Homo sapiens: one gene and its partners. The protein of the gene in region 2 interacts with the protein of the main gene of each other region in a pairwise test. Each region holds a gene or a part of one and is shown on either strand. Other genes may lie near its edges.

Region 1 (4,366 bases), on a different chromosome or scaffold from region 2:
TATATATTTCTTTGTATATAATTTTGTGCAGTACCAATGACAAAAATATGGTGTCATAATAAAACCAGGTTTGTTGATCTTTTAGTTATGGGCTCAAAGAATTTATTCATCTCTAACATGATATTGGAAAATAATGGATGAAAATAGGAAAAATGATTGTTAATGCTGACTGTGGGTCTTAAAAGGTTCTGGAAAGCAGTAAGTTCATTTTTCTAAAAACTATAACATTCTGTTGGAGTATTTTCTTCCTTACGTCAATACTTTTCCTGCATTATTTGAAATTGTGGGCTGGGGAGAAACAGTAGTCAAAGCTTTCTGAATTGAGATACTTTGAAATTCCAAGTGTAGATTTTTAGAATGTCATTTTATAAATGGCAGTTTTTGGAATTACTTGATAAGAACTTTTGAAAATGGAAGGATTAGTATGGCCTATTTTTAAAGCTGCTTTGTTAGGTTCCTTATGTTTTATTAACTGTCTTTTCTCAGTTTCCATTTCATTTTTTTTTTTCTAGTTTTGGTGACTTAGTGATTTTGTCATTTTTTACATCAACTTCATGGTCTTGTTTTTACATGGTAATTGCATGTACTTAGGATCTATCTAATAGGGGCTTTAAATAAATTTGGTCATATTTATGTGTAAGCACATTTTACTGTAAATGTTTGGGTTTCTGAATTTAAACAGATCTGTTTATTTCAGTATGTAGTAAACAATATCTTAAAGTGTCCGATTCACTACTTGTTAATTAAAAAAGTTATGATTAATGTGAAACTGTTGTCTTACTATTTTTAGAAAATTGTGTTCTGGATGATTAGCACATGGATAAAGGAGATTTCTGGAATATAAAATGGATTGTTTTTGAAATTTCTAGGTTTGGCTCTATTTACTGTAATGGTTGAAAACAATTTAGTATTTGGGTGACCCTTTTGTTTTTCTTCTAAATGTGCCTCTGGTAAAATACAGAACTAGACTAAAGATGTAGCTTTTTAATATTTGTCTTTTGATGGTGGCAGGAGTTCATACATTAATTGAACTAACACATCATATTTTGACCTACTATTTCTATCATATTGACTTACTGTTTCTGCACTTCTTTGACCAGACTTATCTTAAAAAGTCCACTTTTGTTAAAATGTAGTCACACCTCTGATATAATCCAACAAGAAGTGTTCAAAATATTTTAAATATTTGTGCATTTTATAATCACTAAATTAATCTCTCTCTCTTCTCTTTGAACAGCTTAGCAGTGTCTGCAAAAACGAATCTTTTCCTACAACCTGTTAACTGACTGGACTGTTGGTAACAAAGTAATTGTGAGAACCATGTCGGTCAAAAATTTGGCATCTGCTGAAAAAAATGAATGCCATTTTCAAGTTCCCAAATTACTTCTATACTGATTTCACTTTCCAGAAATGGAGATATGAAAAGATTCTCTGGAATCCTTGAAAGACTTAATAGAGATACATGAGACTAAGTTAATCTTGGAACAAAATTATACTTTTTTTGTCTTTCATGGGAGTGATACTCAGTTATTGCATATCTTTACAAAATTGTAACCTTTGGAGAATTACAGTATTTCATCAAGAAATTAGAGTTTTTACATAATCAAGAGCATATTCTATGGAATTAACATTTAGTGGACTAGAATTACATAAGCAGGCCATCAGTGATCACAAGGCATATGAGTTTGTATTTATTTCCTGGAACATGAGAGCTAATTTGGAGTACAGACAGACACCCTGCTGAGTAGAATATAAAAGTTAATGTAAAGTTCTGAACTATAAAGAGTAGTCCTTTTAAATAGATGCATTGATTTGTATATCTTTGAAAAAGTTGATTATGATTAAATGTGTGGGTAGTTAATTACAATTTAGGGTAACAACCAGGATGTATGGATTCTTGAGGTTTTGGCTTCTTGAGCTTTCTCTTGAGTACTTGATACTGTTTTCTGAATATTTTGAGGTTTCTAATTAATGGTATGCTAGTTTCTACTGTTTTATATAAAAATTTATCTAGTGTTGTATAAGGACTTTAGTATTGTGGATGATGGGAGTGGCTTTTTGTGGCATATGGTTGTTTTAATTGAAATATTTTTTCAGTTTATTACAAGTGTGAAAAAACACTCAAAACTCTGGATTGTTTTATTTCATTTTTGTTGGATTATGTTAATACATTCCTTCACGTGGTTTAGATTGAGTCATTTTATCTCACTTACTTGGAAATGTGCAGCTGATAGAAGAGGGATTGGGTAGGAGATTGGCTTTTACTTCATAATAAATATACAGTTGGTTATTGTATTATTCAAAACTTATTAAATCCATTCAGTTTCTTACCATTTTAAGTGTATTCAGTGCCTGTGAAGCCAGGCAGCAGAGTATTCCCACTGGCTTAAAACTTAGGCGCTGATGCTCCTACAGTACAGCTAGTTATAATTCCAGAACCAAAGGCACCAACATTATTTGGTGACCTTAACTACTACTTTGATAGAACAGACTGGGTAATTCACTGATAATGAGTCATTACCTTTTTAATATGTGATTATCTAGTTCAGCATTTTGAATGTGTAGTTTAAGGTCTGATTTAGTAAAATTTTAAAGCTAAATAATCTGATGACTCTTGAAAGTTTAATTGGTAGTATGACATTTATGTTTTTTTCCCCCAGACTCACAGCCAATACAAAGTTTTGAGACTCCTAAATGTTAATATTTTTGCTGTTTTTCTGAGCTGTTTTTTTATTTACTTACCACCTAAGCTGCGGATCAAAAAGGGAATTCTTCCATTAGAAATTTGTAGTGTTGTGTGGCCAGCACAGTATTTTTCAGATTTGAATTTCAGTACCTCTGTGTAGCCTCAGTACTCTCAACACCAGTCACTCTTTATTGTCTTAAAATATTCCATACTTTTTGTTGACCCAAAATTGTTGAAAATATTTTGCTCAGTTTTCACAATGAACTAATTGAAAAGTGTAGTTACTGTGTTGTAAACATTTGTGTAGTTCTGTTAATACACTGATTTGAATTTTATTTATCTCAACTTCCTTTAGCGTCTGCCTCCAAATTTTGTCTTTGCTGTATACCCACTGAGATCAATTCCCTAGACCCCTCTGGCTCTTAGTGTACTATAATTTGGGCTTTATAAAATATATTGTCTTAATTTAAATAGAATGTGAGCCCTCTTTTTTTTTTTTTAAGCCAAATAACTACACAAAGTAAATTATAAAAGATTTAAATAGTTTGTCTACAGTGACTAGACTGAAATATAAAAATTGATTGAGGGTAGTTTACTTCAGGTGTTAGCTACAAATGACTAAATGTCCTTAAATAATGCAGATATCTGCCCTCTGAACAAAAATTTTGGCAAAGTAAATTTGTAGCAACAGACTTAACATGATTTATTGCTTATGTTGCCCATTTCTGCTAATGGAAAAGATAATTTAAAAATATGTGGCAGAGGACAGATATTAGAAATACTTTTTGGTTACAGAAACCATTGTAAACTCATCCTCATTTATAAATGGTATTATGCTAGGGAGTAATTGGACTAGGAATGTTTAAAGATAAGTAAGGAAACAATGTGTGCTCAATCGTCAAAGAACTTAGTTATATCATTGGGCTTTGAATTATCTAAGTTGATTACATAATTCTATATTCTTAAGGAGTCTTAACTCGGTACTTGGGTTAACGCCAGAAATTACTTTTAATTCATTGTTTTTTTCACTGGGATGAGTAGAACTCTGCTTTTAGTAAAAGTGACAGAATATAGGTAAAATGGATGATTTGGGATCAGAGCTTTTCATCTTGATATTTTAGCCTGTAAAATAAACAGCTATATTGTTTTGCCCTTTAAATGTTATATATATTTTTCTGTCTTTCTTTCCCTAGTTGTAAAAGTAAAGCATATTCTTTATAGAAAACTTGGAATATCCTGAAAGGAATCAAGAAGAAAAGAAAAATCACCCTTATAACTCTATAAGCCATAGAATATCCACAGTAAACATTTTGGCATGCTTCCTTTCAGTCTCTTGTGCACATAGATTCTTTTGCCTCATAACTGGGATCATTTTTTATATAAGTTTGGTAGATAATATATTTTATGTGCCTGTTGAAAGAACAAATCATCTTTGCTTTCTGAAAAATTGAGATTGTATTTTATTAATTTCACATGAGTTTTTCATCTTTGGCAGCACAGCTTTATGTTTTTCTTTAAACAGAAGCTAAAGGCCAGTTTCACTCACAAAGATGCCTTTTCTAAATTATAATTTTAAGTAGCATAAGATGACTTAACAGATATGTCACTATTTGGAAGTAATAATTAAGAGATTCATGAATAATCTTGGATGCCACTTAAAATTTTGTTTGGTACTTTTCT
Region 2 (7,045 bases):
CAGGCTTCATCCCTAGTCCTGCTCAGGCTTAGAAAACCCCAGTACTAGTAGATGGACCTTTTTTCTAATATGCTTACGGGCCATTCAACCTCAGCTCCCGCTCACTTCTCTGGCTTTTAGTTCTCTCGTCATTTTCCATACCTGAGGTTTTCTTTTTCTTGCATTCAAGATTGGCATGCATTTAAAAATATTTGTGTTATATTATAACCAGTATGTTGAAGTATTTGGAATGATTGGGGTTTTGAATGATTTCTTCCCTCAGCGGCATGTCAGCAATATTTTCCAGATTTTTCATGTTTTAGAAATATGTACCAAGATTATACTCCAAATCCATCAAAATAAGTGAACTTTCAGAGTCCTACCCTCAGTAAAGTCATAGTTACCCTATAACTAAAGTTATAGGAAGAATTAGTGGTTGATCAACCTGAAAACTTACCAGTGTGTTCAGATGTGGGGCATAGTTTCTTCTTTTGCAGTAACTTTTCTTTATGTATCACCGGGAAAGCTAGATGTATGAAAATTAAAGAAAGTAAATTACGGTATCCTTCAAGACCTAAATCCTTTCTAATGAAACAGGCAGATTAATGGGCAAAGGACAGTCTTAACTGTTTTTTCTTGTCCCAATACCTCTTTCCAAATAGCTCAACACTGCTAACAGTATATTTATTCTGTTTCCATTTCAAATCTGTGAGCAGTTTTCAAAGTTATGATAAATGCTTTTCTTCAGATGTAGCTGAGCAGTATTTTCAAGAGAGCATGGCTCATCTTAAGGATTCTGAAGGGATGGGAAGAACCAAATTTCTTTCAATTCAAGATGAATTTTGCCATTTTCTACAAATGACTGGACAAAAAGAGGTAAGTGAGTTTGGATCACAATTGTCTAGTTATTCACAGTTGATATCCAAAGGGCAACTCCTTTACTCTGCAAGCATCCATTAAGCATCTACTGTGTGCAAAGCATGTGCCAGTCTCTAGAGGGACACATAAATAAGGCTAGGGCTCCTTTGGGGCAGCTTCCAGAGATACTTGCTCTTAGAAGCTGGGAGACTTTATGAGAATATAGATTGTCATGCCCACCTACAAAAGATCCTAAAGAAATAGTGGACAGGCCCTGCTTATTGAAGTCCTGCAGATCTGGCTGGAATAGTGTGGCAGTTAGTGTGTCTAATCCCTCTCTCCTCAGTTTGGGTAATGAATGGAGTTTGCATGTCTAAGGAAAACTATACGGTGCAGAAGTTACAGCTCAGTTGTTTAGTATTGATTCGTACAAGCGTGATTTACGTGGCTTATGAAAATAGAGCAAGACCCAGACCTTATATTCATTGGGAATTAAACCCTTGGGAATGCATTCCCTGCAAAGCCTAACATACCATTGCTTTATGTTTTTATATATGTGTGTGTGTGTACATATTAATACATATATATATATACAATCGCCCACAGATAGGAACAATTATATATATGTGTGTGCATATATATGTATATATGTATGTGTGCATGTATGCCCACACCCTCTTCTCAGCGCACCTAAGTCCTGTTTACTTTTCACTCCTCTCCGTTAAGTTTTTTTTTTTTTTTTTTTGAGACAGAGTCTTGCTCTGTCACCCAAGCTGGAGTGCAGTGGTGCAATCTCAGCTCACTGCAACCTCCGCCTCCTGGGTTCAAGCAATTTTCTGCCTCAGCCCCCCGAGTAGCTGGGATTACAGGCCCCCGCCACCATGCCCAGCTAATTTTTTTGTATTTTTAGTAGAGTTGGGGTTTCACCATTTGGCTAGGCTGATCTTGAACTCCTGACCCCGTGATCCGCCCGCCTCAGCCTCCCAAAGTGCTGGGATTACAGGCGTGAGCCACTGCGCCCGGCCTCTGTTAAGCTTTTCTTATCAGAGGTTAACGCCATCTCAATTTCCTAGAAAACCATACATACATACATATATACACACTCACACACATATATATATAGTTGTTCCTCAGTATCTGTGGGGGATTGGTTCCAGAGCCCCCAAGGATATCAAACTCCAAGGATGCTCAAGCCCTTGTACAAAATGGTGTCACATTTGTATATAACCTAGACAAAGCCTCCTGAATACTTTATATCATCTCTAGATTGCTTATAATACCTAATACAATGTAAATGCTATGGTAGTAGTTGTTACACTGTATTTTTTATTTGTATTGTTTTTATTGTTGTATTGTTATTTTTATTGTTTTTTCCCATATAATTTTTGATCTATGGATATGGAGGGCTGACTATGTATTTTTTTCAACTCTAACCTATCATGGCAAATCTTGGAAATGAAAAACTTTATTTCCCTTACCGTCTGTAGACCTCCTCCCCCACAGCTCTTTTCTCATCCTTAATCCCCCCTCCACCCCCGCCTTCTGTCAGCTAGGGAACACGGGCTTTTATGCCGATATACCTATGTTTCTCAGGCCAAAGTAGGGCCACAATCACCAGGACAAATTGGAGTTTCAGGATGTTTCTCAGTCACCCAACCCCAGGGAGAGAGAGGGGCCTTCCAGGGGCCTCAGACTCCCTCCCCATTCCCCCCTCACATCTCTAGAAGACAAGGGGAGTGCTCAGGTCAGAATAATGGGGTAGGTTTGCCCCCTCATGCCCCACTCCATCTAGTTCCTCAGCCATTTTTTCCTCCAAAATAGATCTTGAATGCATCCATTGTTTTCCATCTTTAGTCCTGCCACTCATCATCTCTTGCCTGGACCGCTCTAACAAGTTCCTATCTCTCAGCTGCTTTTTCCATGCTTGCCCTCTTCTAATCCACTCAGAATAAGGAAGCCATGGTGATGTTTCCAAAAAGCAGATCTGACCACTGAACACTCACTTGTAAAAGCCAGTCCACTGGCTCCCCGATGCCCTCAGGATAAACCAGAATCCTGACATGGCCCACAGTACCGTCCACGACCTGGACTCCACTGACATTTCCAGGCTCATTTTTGCCTCCTCTCCCTGATCCATGTTCCTGCCACACTGGCCTTTTCTAATTCCCACTTCCGGGCAGTGCCAGCTTCTGTTTCCTCCTCCTGGAAGGCCCTTCCTCATTCATCTCCAGGCCAATGCTAACCCATTCTTCATTTCTTACCAGCTTCTCTGATTCCTCTCCCCAGGCTTCATTAGATACTCCCCATTATTCTTCCTTAGAGAATCCATTTGATGTCATCAAATATTTGTAAGTATATATTCATGTGGATATTTAACATCTATCTTGCAACTAGACCGAACCTGTGAAAGCAGAGACCCTCTTGCCTGTGGTGAGGAGTGATGAGCAGAGAGGTGGATGCATGTTTGGCCACAGGCCAGCTGACTGTTCTGACTCCTGTGGGCCATGCATCAGTTCCCCTGTACTGCCTGGCTTCCCACCATAGTGTCTTGCTGAGTCAGCCAATGCTCAGTGTCACTGATGCTATGCCTCACTGCCCTTGCCCAAGTCACCCAGATCAGTGTTGATCAAAAGATGCACCTCACTCTCCTAAGCTGCCCTCGAAGATTTTAGCAAACTGGCTCTTTTCATTCTAGGGCCACTGCCAGCCCATCCAATGCCCTTATCATAATAGAAAAAGCTGCCCCTTCCTCAGGTAGATACCGCCCATGTTGGAGAGGACCATAGGCTGGATTTCAGCCCTCCCCATGCTCCTGCCAGGCACCCTTGTGTGTGGCACCACCTGCCCAGCCAAACATGGCAGTCTCATGCTGTTCTCACCATTTGGTTGCAAACCTCTCACTGTGGGTTCTAGCAGGTGTTGGCCAACAAGGGCCGGGCCCAGGGACAGTCCCGGAGCCAAGAATGGGGCTGTGCTCAGGCCATCCCAGGTGTTCCCACAGCACATGGCCATGGGCACTGTGGAACATGATATTTGAGGGATGAAATGCCTTTTAAGGTAAAATGTAAGTGAAGGTCACTCTGCCACAGGTTAAGCTACTCCGTGAGGGTTTGTCTTCTAGTTGTGCCACTCTTTTGCTCAAGAATCTTCTGTGACTTCCTCAGCCTGGCCACTCACTGGCCCTCAACAGGCCATGTGTTCCTCCTGTGCTCCCAGTGGCCCATACCCTCTTCTCATCCCACCTAAGTCCTCTTTACTCTTCACTCCTCTCTCTTAAGCTTTTCCTAGCAGAGGTTGATACTATCTCAGTTTCCTAGAAACCCGTGCCATTTAACTTCCTTCACATCTCCCCGTTTCCGCAGTCAGGCTGTAGGCGGCATCCAAAGCTTTATCTGGGAAAGGGAGTCTCCCCGGGTCTTCTCCCCATCACTGGCTCCTCTAAGTCTGACAGTGATATTTTCCCACAGAAATATCACCAAACCCAGCACTCTCAGCAGTCCAAGTCCTTGCTCTCAGAACTTGGGAGATGTGATGGGCTTTACCCTCAGGCAAGTCTAGATTTAAATTCTAGTCCCTCATGTACCTCAGTGGGGCCTCACTGCTGAGTTACACAATCACTCTGCCTCTACAGAGATTCCTCTTTCACCTGAGAAATTTATTTCTGCCTCATCAGCACCTGTAATGTGGTTCCCCTACCCCGGCCCTATCCCCTAACTTGTATTATTGCCAACAAAAGGATTAAACGCCCTCCTTGTCCTTCTGTTTGTGGAGCACTTTTGGGACCCCTTTGGGGCTGTGTCATGAGGAAGCTCCCATGGTCCCTGCTGTATTTGCCAGTTAAATTCAGCATCCATGCTCTGCAGCTGATGTCGTGCCTTCATGTGGAAGATCGTGGAAGAATTTCTGGAGAAAGTATGGAGGATTGACATACTTTAACAGGGTTTCCCCCTGCATATTTTGGTGTCTGAAGAAGCTAATATCAGGAAATACTATGTCCTGACCAATTCATAATTTTTATTCCATGTTAGTATAAATAAATTGGATAAACCAAACAAAATGTCATGTCATGTTGGAATGTTTACTTTCAGTTTCCTAAACGATTTCCTATGAGAATAGCCAAGCCTGGAGTGTGTTCAGGATGTTCTATACATAGATAATTTGCCCAGGAATGCTATATTTTCACTTCTGTAAGAATAGCATTGTGGACAGAGGGAGAAAAGCATGGGACTAAAATGTATGAAAATTAGACTGGGCATTGTGGCTCGCGCCTGTAATCCCAGCACTTTGGGATGCCAAGGTGGGTGGATCACTTGAGGTCAGGAGTTCAAGACCAGTCTGGCCAACATGGTGAAACCCTGTCTCTACTAAAAATACAAAAATTAGCTGGGTATGGTGGTGGGCGCCTGCAATCCCAGCTACTTGGGAGGATGAGGCAGGAGAATCGCTTGAACCTGGGAGGCAGAGGTTGCAGAGAGCTGAGATCATGCCACTGCACTCCAGGCTGGTAGACAAAGAGAGACTCTGTCTAAAAAAAAAAAAAAAAAAACCTCCAGATTTCCACCTGCTGTTGTAAAATGGAAGATCTGCTGAGACGGTGAGACGGATTTAAAAAAAAAAAAAAAAAAAGGTATGAAGATCACTGGCTGGATTCAGATCCTAGCACCACCACAGCTGAGCCCTCTGACTCTGAGCAAGTTTCTTAACTGCCGTGCCTGTTTCCTCCTCTGCCTAATGAGGATTAAAATTTTACCCATCTAAAGAAGACAGCAAAAATTAAATGAGACCCACACAATTGTGTGTGTTCAGCACAATTAGTGACATGTGAGGACTGATCCATGTCAGCTTTTGTTCTTACTACTCAACTGAAATGGATTCCTGTAATGGCTGAGTGGGTTTATTTTGCCAGGTGTCCTCTCTCTTCATAGTTTACACCTTTCCTCACATTCGTGTTGTTTCCTGACTCTTGTTCAACCAGAGGTGATATGATTTGGCTGTGTCCCCACCCAAATCTCGTCTTGAATTATAGTTCCTATAATACCCATGTGTCATGGTAGGGACCCTGTGGGAGGTGATTGAACCATGGGTGCGGTTACCCCCATGCCGTTCTTGCGATAGTGACTGAATTCTCACAAGATCTGATGGTTTTATAAGGGGCTTTGCCCCCTTTGCTCAGCACTTATCTCTCCTGCTGCCCTATGAAAGAGGTGCCCTCTGCCATGATTGTAAGTTTTCTGAGGCCTCCCCACCCATGTGGAACTGTGAGTCAATTAAACTTCTTGGCTTTATAAATTACCCAGTCTCAGGTATCTCTTCATAGCAGCATGAGAATGGACTAATACAAGAGGAGAACAGGCTCAGCTCGTGAGACTACCACACCCATGTGAAAATGTTACAAGTTGCGTAATGATCCTAATCAGCCTTTGAGCTTGTTAACCAGATAGCTTTTTGTTCCTTTCACAGAGAGCAACCTCGATCCTGAGAGAGTCCCTGGAAGCCAAAGTGGAAGCATTTGGCGATTTCAGTCCCGAGGTGGCAGAGACATACCGGCTCCTGGGAGGAGCAGACCTGGCGCAGGGGAACCACAGTGGGGCCCGCAAGAAACTGAAGAAGGTAAAGCTGGAACCAGTACTAACACGAGACTAGGCTCTCCCTCCCCTCTCCAAGGTCAATTTCTCTCCCTTGTGGTGGTTCTTTTAAATGAAACTTTAGAAGTGGCTTGTTTAGATAGGATGACATCACTTTTGTGGTAGATCTAACCTGATACTTTTTGGGTAAAAGACATAGTAAGCCTCTTAGACATACATATTTTTTAAATGAATTATCAGTTTTTACTATGCAAATATTTTTAATTTTTTACGTAGTACAATTGATCAGTCCTTTATGTTTGCGGTGCTCTCTCTATACTGAGTTTATAGAGGAATTCTCTTACACTTTCTTCAATTGTCATTCTTCTTTAAATTTGGAGTTTATTTGTGTGGATGGCATGAGGAATGGATCTAATCTTACCTTTTTTCCAAATGGCCACCCAGTTGTCCAGCACCATTTAATTAGAGAGCCCATCTATGCTCCAGTGACTTCAGATAACACCTTCATCATATACTGATTTTCCTTATGGACTTAAGTCTATTTCTAGATTTCTCTTCTCTTCCACTAGTCTTTCTGTTTATTCATGTGTCAATATTTCAGTTTTAATTACAGAGATTTTATA
Region 3 (7,045 bases), on a different chromosome or scaffold from region 2:
CGCACTCCCTCCAGCCAGGGCCAGATAGAAGCTGCTGGAGGGGGTGTTGGCAGATCCAGAGTCTGGTCCATTCCTGCTGGAAATACCAAGCTCACGTTTTGCACCTACGTAGTTTTAGTCTGAAGTCAGCTAGAGTCACAGGCCAGGGAGCTTGACTGGTATGGGTGGAGGAGACAGGAATCTGGGGACCCATCTTTTCTTCTGTTTCATGGTGGTGAGATTAGCACTGAGCCAGTTTTTAGATTGAAGCCCCTCTGTTTTACTGCTTGTAAAATGGGACTGACGCCTCCCAGATCTGGAGAGGACTTTTCGGAGTGTGTCTAGTCCTGTACACCTGCCCTGTGAACCTCAGGGTCCTCACCCGCCTTCTTTGAACTTCTCAAACTAGAACCATGGTCAGTAAAAGCGACGGCTGCAATTGTTCTAAATCCATGAGCGTTATCCCACTTTACCGTCCTTTTTCCAGGGACATTGAACCTCCCTCTTCTCAGCCCTCCCCTGTGTTCCCCTGACCCACAGACAGTGCGCGGAGTCGGGGCTGACTTCGTGTGAGCTGTCCATAAGTGGTAGGGCTGTGGCTGTGACCTCGTAGAGGGCTGGAGAGATGACGCGTCCGTTCTCCACTGTGGCCCATCGAAGCTATGCTGGCAAAGAATGGAAATTCCCGCTAGTCTTCAGGGGCAGAGCGGTGACAATTCGAAGCCGAAGAGGGCTGTTCCTGGCCTTCTTTCCCCATATCCCTCGCTCAGGCTGTTGACCCGGCCATGCCACCCCTGTGTGCTGGACCGTGTGGGGCAGTGTCCCCAGGCCCGCCCTCCGCCCTGTGTCTCTGTGTTGTGGACAGAAGCCTCTTAGAGCGCTCCGTGCGGTAGGACCTCAGCCTCGGCCCTCCTAACCTCTTTCCTTTCTCTCTCTCTTTCCCCTCTCTCCCTCCTCCCCCCTTGCCTCTGCCCTTCAGGTCCGAGCCTCCGTACTGGGTGCAATGAAAGCTCCACGCAGGCCTTACCATGGAAGGCTGTGACTCGCCCGTCGTCTCGGGGAAGGACAATGGGTGCGGTATCCCTCAGCACCAGCAATGGACTGAACTCAACAGCACCCACCTCCCTGACAAACCCAGTAGCATGGAGCAGTCCACAGGCGAGAGCCACGGGCCCTTGGACAGCCTGAGGGCCCCCTTCAATGAGCGCCTCGCGGAGAGCACCGCGTCGGCCGGGCCCCCCTCCGAGCCCGCCAGCAAGGAGGTCACCTGCAACGAATGTTCGGCCTCCTTTGCCAGCCTCCAGACCTACATGGAGCACCACTGCCCCAGCGCGCGCCCCCCGCCACCCCTGAGAGAGGAGAGCGCCAGCGACACCGGTGAGGAGGGGGACGAGGAGAGTGACGTGGAGAACCTGGCCGGGGAGATCGTCTACCAGCCGGACGGCTCCGCGTACATTGTGGAGAGCCTGAGCCAGCTGACCCAGGGCGGGGGCGCCTGTGGGAGTGGCAGTGGCAGTGGGCCTCTCCCCTCGCTTTTCCTGAACTCTCTCCCTGGCGCGGGGGGCAAGCAAGGGGACCCTTCGTGTGCTGCACCCGTGTACCCGCAGATCATCAACACTTTCCACATAGCCTCATCCTTCGGGAAATGGTTTGAGGGCCCAGACCAGGCTTTCCCGAATACCTCAGCCCTGGCGGGGCTCAGCCCCGTCCTGCACAGCTTCCGCGTGTTTGACGTGCGACACAAAAGCAACAAGGATTACCTGAACAGCGACGGTTCTGCCAAAAGCTCCTGCGTATCCAAAGATGTTCCCAACAATGTGGACCTGTCCAAATTCGATGGCTTTGTGCTCTATGGCAAGAGGAAGCCCATCCTGATGTGTTTCTTGTGCAAACTCTCCTTTGGGTACGTCCGTTCGTTTGTGACCCACGCGGTGCATGACCATCGAATGACCCTGAGCGAAGACGAGCGGAAAATTCTTAGCAATAAGAACATCTCCGCTATCATCCAAGGGATCGGCAAAGACAAGGAACCCCTTGTAAGTTTTCTGGAACCAAAAAACAAAAACTTTCAACACCCTTTAGTTTCCACAGCTAACCTCATAGGCCCCGGACACAGTTTTTATGGTAAATTTAGTGGCATTCGAATGGAAGGGGAGGAAGCTCTCCCAGCGGGCTCCGCCGCTGGCCCCGAGCAGCCCCAGGCTGGTCTCTTGACCCCCAGCACCCTGTTGAACCTTGGCGGGCTCACCAGCTCGGTACTGAAGACCCCCATTACCTCAGTCCCCCTGGGGCCTCTGGCTTCCAGTCCTACCAAATCCTCAGAGGGCAAGGACTCTGGGGCGGCAGAAGGAGAGAAGCAGGAAGTGGGCGACGGGGATTGCTTCTCTGAGAAGGTAGAGCCAGCCGAAGAGGAGGCGGAGGAGGAAGAGGAGGAGGAAGAGGCGGAGGAGGAGGAGGAAGAAGAGGAGGAGGAAGAAGAGGAGGAGGAAGACGAGGGTTGCAAAGGACTCTTTCCAAGCGAGTTGGATGAGGAACTGGAGGACAGGCCCCATGAGGAGCCTGGGGCCGCAGCAGGTAGTAGCAGCAAAAAGGACCTTGCTCTCTCAAACCAAAGCATTTCTAACTCCCCCTTAATGCCTAACGTGCTCCAGACCCTGTCGAGGGGCACAGCTTCTACTAGTTCTAATTCTGCTTCTTCCTTTGTTGTCTTTGATGGTGCGAACAGGAGGAATCGTTTAAGCTTTAACAGTGAGGGCGTCAGGGCCAATGTGGCAGAGGGCGGCAGGAGGCTGGACTTCGCTGACGAAAGTGCCAATAAAGACAATGCCACAGCACCAGAACCAAATGAAAGCACAGAGGGTGACGATGGGGGCTTCGTTCCCCATCACCAGCACGCTGGCTCCCTCTGCGAGCTTGGGGTTGGGGAGTGCCCCTCGGGGAGTGGCGTGGAGTGCCCCAAATGCGACACGGTCCTGGGCTCCTCCCGCTCGCTGGGCGGCCACATGACCATGATGCATTCTCGTAACTCGTGTAAGACACTCAAGTGCCCCAAGTGCAACTGGCACTATAAGTACCAGCAGACCCTGGAGGCACACATGAAGGAGAAGCACCCGGAGCCGGGGGGCTCCTGTGTCTACTGCAAAAGCGGGCAGCCCCACCCCCGGCTGGCACGAGGCGAGAGCTACACGTGTGGTTACAAGCCTTTCCGCTGCGAGGTGTGTAACTACTCCACAACTACCAAAGGCAACCTCAGTATTCATATGCAGTCTGACAAGCATCTCAACAACATGCAGAACCTGCAGAATGGAGGGGGGGAGCAGGTCTTCAGCCACACTGCCGGGGCGGCGGCGGCGGCGGTGGCTGCGGCGGCGGCGGCAGCCAATATCAGTAGCTCCTGCGGGGCCCCCTCGCCGACCAAACCAAAAACCAAACCCACCTGGCGGTGCGAGGTGTGTGATTATGAGACCAACGTGGCCAGGAACCTCCGCATTCACATGACCAGTGAGAAGCACATGCATAACATGATGTTACTGCAACAGAACATGACCCAGATCCAACACAACCGCCACCTGGGCCTCGGCAGCCTGCCCTCACCCGCCGAGGCCGAGCTCTACCAATACTACCTGGCCCAGAACATGAACCTGCCCAACCTGAAGATGGACAGTGCTGCCTCGGACGCCCAGTTCATGATGAGCGGATTCCAGCTGGATCCCGCCGGGCCCATGGCCGCCATGACGCCTGCTCTAGGTGAGGATGACTACGTGTTTGTCTGTTTTCATGATAGGAGTTTAACCAGGGAGAATGGTGAATAGGGTGAGATAGTCCTGTGGATTCAGTTGACTCTGGTCTTCTCGAGTGGTTTTTGTGTAAACTGGAGTGTCTTACAATCAAGTATTCTCAAGAATCCCTTGAACTGTGTGTGTACATATGGAAGAGTTTATGCATTCAAAAGAGATATGCTTGTACTCTGGCTACGTGGGGCCAGGATTAAAATGTGAGTGTTTCCTCTAGTTTTCTGTTCCCATTCTCTCTTTCTCTGTCTCTTCTTTCAATTTGAAAAATCACTATAATCACCTAAAACTTTGGGGTTTCATCGAATATTTACTGAAACTTACAGGAAACTGTAGCTGAGGCAATCATTTCAATAAGAGGACTAGGGACAGTTACCTCAATGATTTAAGTAGAGACAATCATCTTAATAATAGGAATTCGGAACCACAGTGTACGTTATTCAGATAACTAAAGGCTGATTCTGTGCCGAGCTAGGGAACCATCCAGATAGACTTCTCAAAGTTCTCTGTATATTTATGAGGACCTCAATGAAAGAGATGTTTTTTTTTTTGCTTATTTTTGATGAGTACTTGGTGATTAGAATAGTTGGAAATTAATTGGGAATTAAATTCCCCAGTGGCACTGTTGTGAGGGGTGTGAGAGATGAAAAATGAGTAAGTTGTAAAAATTGTCCATCAAGGAAAGTTAACTTTTAATAGCAGTTAGATCCTGGTTAGCGGAGCCTTCGCTGCCAGGAAGAATGACCTCTGCTTTAGAGAAGCTGATTTGGCTCTGTTCAGGCTCCCAGTCTTACCAATTGGCTTACAATATCTAGAATAGGACCAAGAGTGTAGGATTTGGGTGCTAAAAACTTTGAGTTTTTACGTAGAACGAACCACAGCCACTTTGAGGATAGCTGCTGCTGCCAAAACAATCTACAGATGGGTTTCATGAGAACCTTCTGATAGTTGGGCCACTCGTGCCTCCACCCGGTATGCTTCAAACAGGATCCTGCCTGCGTCCCATCCCGTGACGCTGCTAATGGACTTCGTGGGACCAGTGACAATGGCCTGAATTAAGCAATATGCCATTATTGACATGGGAATAGGTTGTTCTTGGCAACAGAGTGTCAGTGAGGACTTTTTTTCCAGGATGGCTTAGATGACTGCAGGGCCAGGCCTCAGCAGTTGGCAAGTGTTTATTTGTGTGGTGTTTGAGTGCTAATTGTTGCCGATGAGTTATATTTCAAAGCATTCCATTGGTTTTTCTTGCTATGTATTCAGTTTTTAATCCTTAGTACTTTAATCTCATTTTCCATTTTGAAATATTTGCCTGTTGATCCTTTATTACCAAATGATTTGAGGGTATTTGAAACCAACTGGCTAATTGTGGATGCACAAGCACTGGTCGTCTTATTTGTCACCAGGGTGAACCATGCACACCAGGAGATGGGAGTGAGTACTCTAAGGTTTTCTTTAAGCCAGTAGGAATTAGAAGGAGTCATAGAATCTCGGGAGGTAGATCTTGGAGCAAATCAAACATAACGGAGGTGGAATGAAGACAGAACGTGGGAACGTGGGTAGGTTCATGTTGGGTCAAAGTGAGGGTTTTTTTTTTTTTTTTTTTGAGACAGAGTCTCGCTCTGTCACCCAGGCTGGAGTGAGTGGTGCCGTCTCGGCTCACTGCAACATCCACCTCCTGTGTTCAAGCGATTCTCCTGCCAGAGCCTCCCAAGTAGCTGGGATTACAGGCACCCGCCACCATGCCTGGCTAATTTTGTGTTTTTAGTAGAGATGGGGCTTCACCATCTTGGCCAGGCTGGTCTCAAACCCTTGACCTCAGGTGATCTGCCCGCCTTGGCCTCCCAAAGTGCTGGGATTACAGGCATGAGCCACTGTGCCCAGCCTAAAGTGAGGCTTTTTAATTACCTTAAGAACAGGTAACTAAGGCTTGTATTGAGAAGTAGAGAAATATTTCGCTTTCACACCAAGTGTCTGTGAGTCTTTGGGGCATCATGCACTGTCCTGGGCATTGCGGCAGATTCAGAAGGAGCAGAAGAATGAAGCCCTGTGTTGTAGACACACATGGAAGGGCCACACCATATTTCTTAGACTGGAGCTCTTCCTCCCAAAGGATTTATCCAGCTCAGTCACAAAGGGCTCTTGAATTTCCAGTGTCACTACTTGTCGGCCACGGGGAGTCCCTGGAAACCTGTGCCTTCCTTGGGCCGCGAAAACTGCTGAGAAGGTGTGAGAGCCACAAATCCTTTATGCCAGAAGCTCGAGTGGGTGTGGGGGCCATAGGAAGTGTCCAAAAGACTTGGAATTTGAGTTGTATGACCTCAGTAGGAGAAACCAACTTATGCAAATAAAAACAGCCATAACTTTCAGTTCTAGCTGTGGCTGTACTGGTTTTTTTTCCCCATGGTCCATTTATAAGATGGCTGTAGGTGTTATTAGATGTGACTGAGTTCTGCAGGGAGAAAAATGTTTTTGTGAAATACACTCCTCTTTACAAGGTGATTGTTTTCATACTTCCCTTGGCAGAGCCCTCTTTAGTATCATCAAACAGACACTGATTGTGGGGTTGCTTCTTTTCAGAAGCCTTTGAGGAAAGGCTTGGGGCTCCTTCGCCTAGTACAGTCGGATCTGCTGCTCTTTGTAGACAGCACATTAGATTTGAGGCCTTGTGAACATCCTCCCAAACCTTCCTTTCGACTCTGAAGTTTAGCATAGCACCAAGAAAGGGGTTGCTTGTCGGGGTGGCTGTGTGTTTCCCAAGTAGCCAGCCAGCCCCTGGACACCTGCACAAGGTTTAGCAGCTCCCTTCGTCTCCCTTTCATTCCAGAGTGTGCCTTTGAATCCATGCACCTTCCTGAGGATGTGCTGATGGGTGGGCTCACGTGTCAAGGTGTCAGTTCCAGTGTTAGAGTTAGGTGCATACCCAGAGATGGGGACCTGCTCCAAGACCACGTATCCAGTGTGGCTCAAGACTAAGGACCTGCCAAGTTCTTTTTTTCATTTCTTTTTTTTGAGATGGAGTTTCACTCTTGTCGCCCAGGCTGGAGTGCAATAGCGCAGTCTCGGCTCACTGCAGCCCCTGCCTCCCGGGTTCAAGCAATTCTTCTGCCTCTGCCTTCCGAGTAGCTGGGATTACAGGCATGCGCCACCATGCCTAGCTAATTTTTGTGTGTTCAGTAGAGACAGGATTTCACCACATTGGCCAGGCTGGTCTTGAACTCCTGACCTCAGGTGATCTGCCCACCTTGGCCTCCCAAAGTGCTGGGATGACAGGT

The links.
Region 1: the proteins of TTC23 (region 2) and CREBZF interact in binary tests that used the Homo sapiens proteins (3 or more experiments, as listed by UniProt).
Region 3: the proteins of TTC23 (region 2) and ZFHX3 interact in binary tests that used the Homo sapiens proteins (3 or more experiments, as listed by UniProt).

What each region holds. Positions count from the first base shown.
Region 1 is NC_000011.10:85,657,469-85,661,834, reverse strand, and holds the end of CREBZF (CREB/ATF bZIP transcription factor), read left to right. Parts: 3' UTR 1-3,845; downstream 3,846-4,366.
Region 2 is NC_000015.10:99,155,550-99,162,594, reverse strand, and holds part of TTC23 (tetratricopeptide repeat protein 23), read left to right. Parts: intron 1-727; coding exon 728-855; intron 856-6,297; coding exon 6,298-6,447; intron 6,448-7,045. UniProt on the Homo sapiens protein: Participates positively in the ciliary Hedgehog (Hh) signaling.
Region 3 is NC_000016.10:72,954,108-72,961,152, reverse strand, and holds part of ZFHX3 (zinc finger homeobox protein 3), read left to right. Parts: exon of another isoform or gene 1-958; 5' UTR 959-1,007; coding exon 1,008-3,726; intron 3,727-3,750; exon of another isoform or gene 3,751-3,906; coding exon of another isoform or gene 3,907-3,973; intron 3,974-7,045.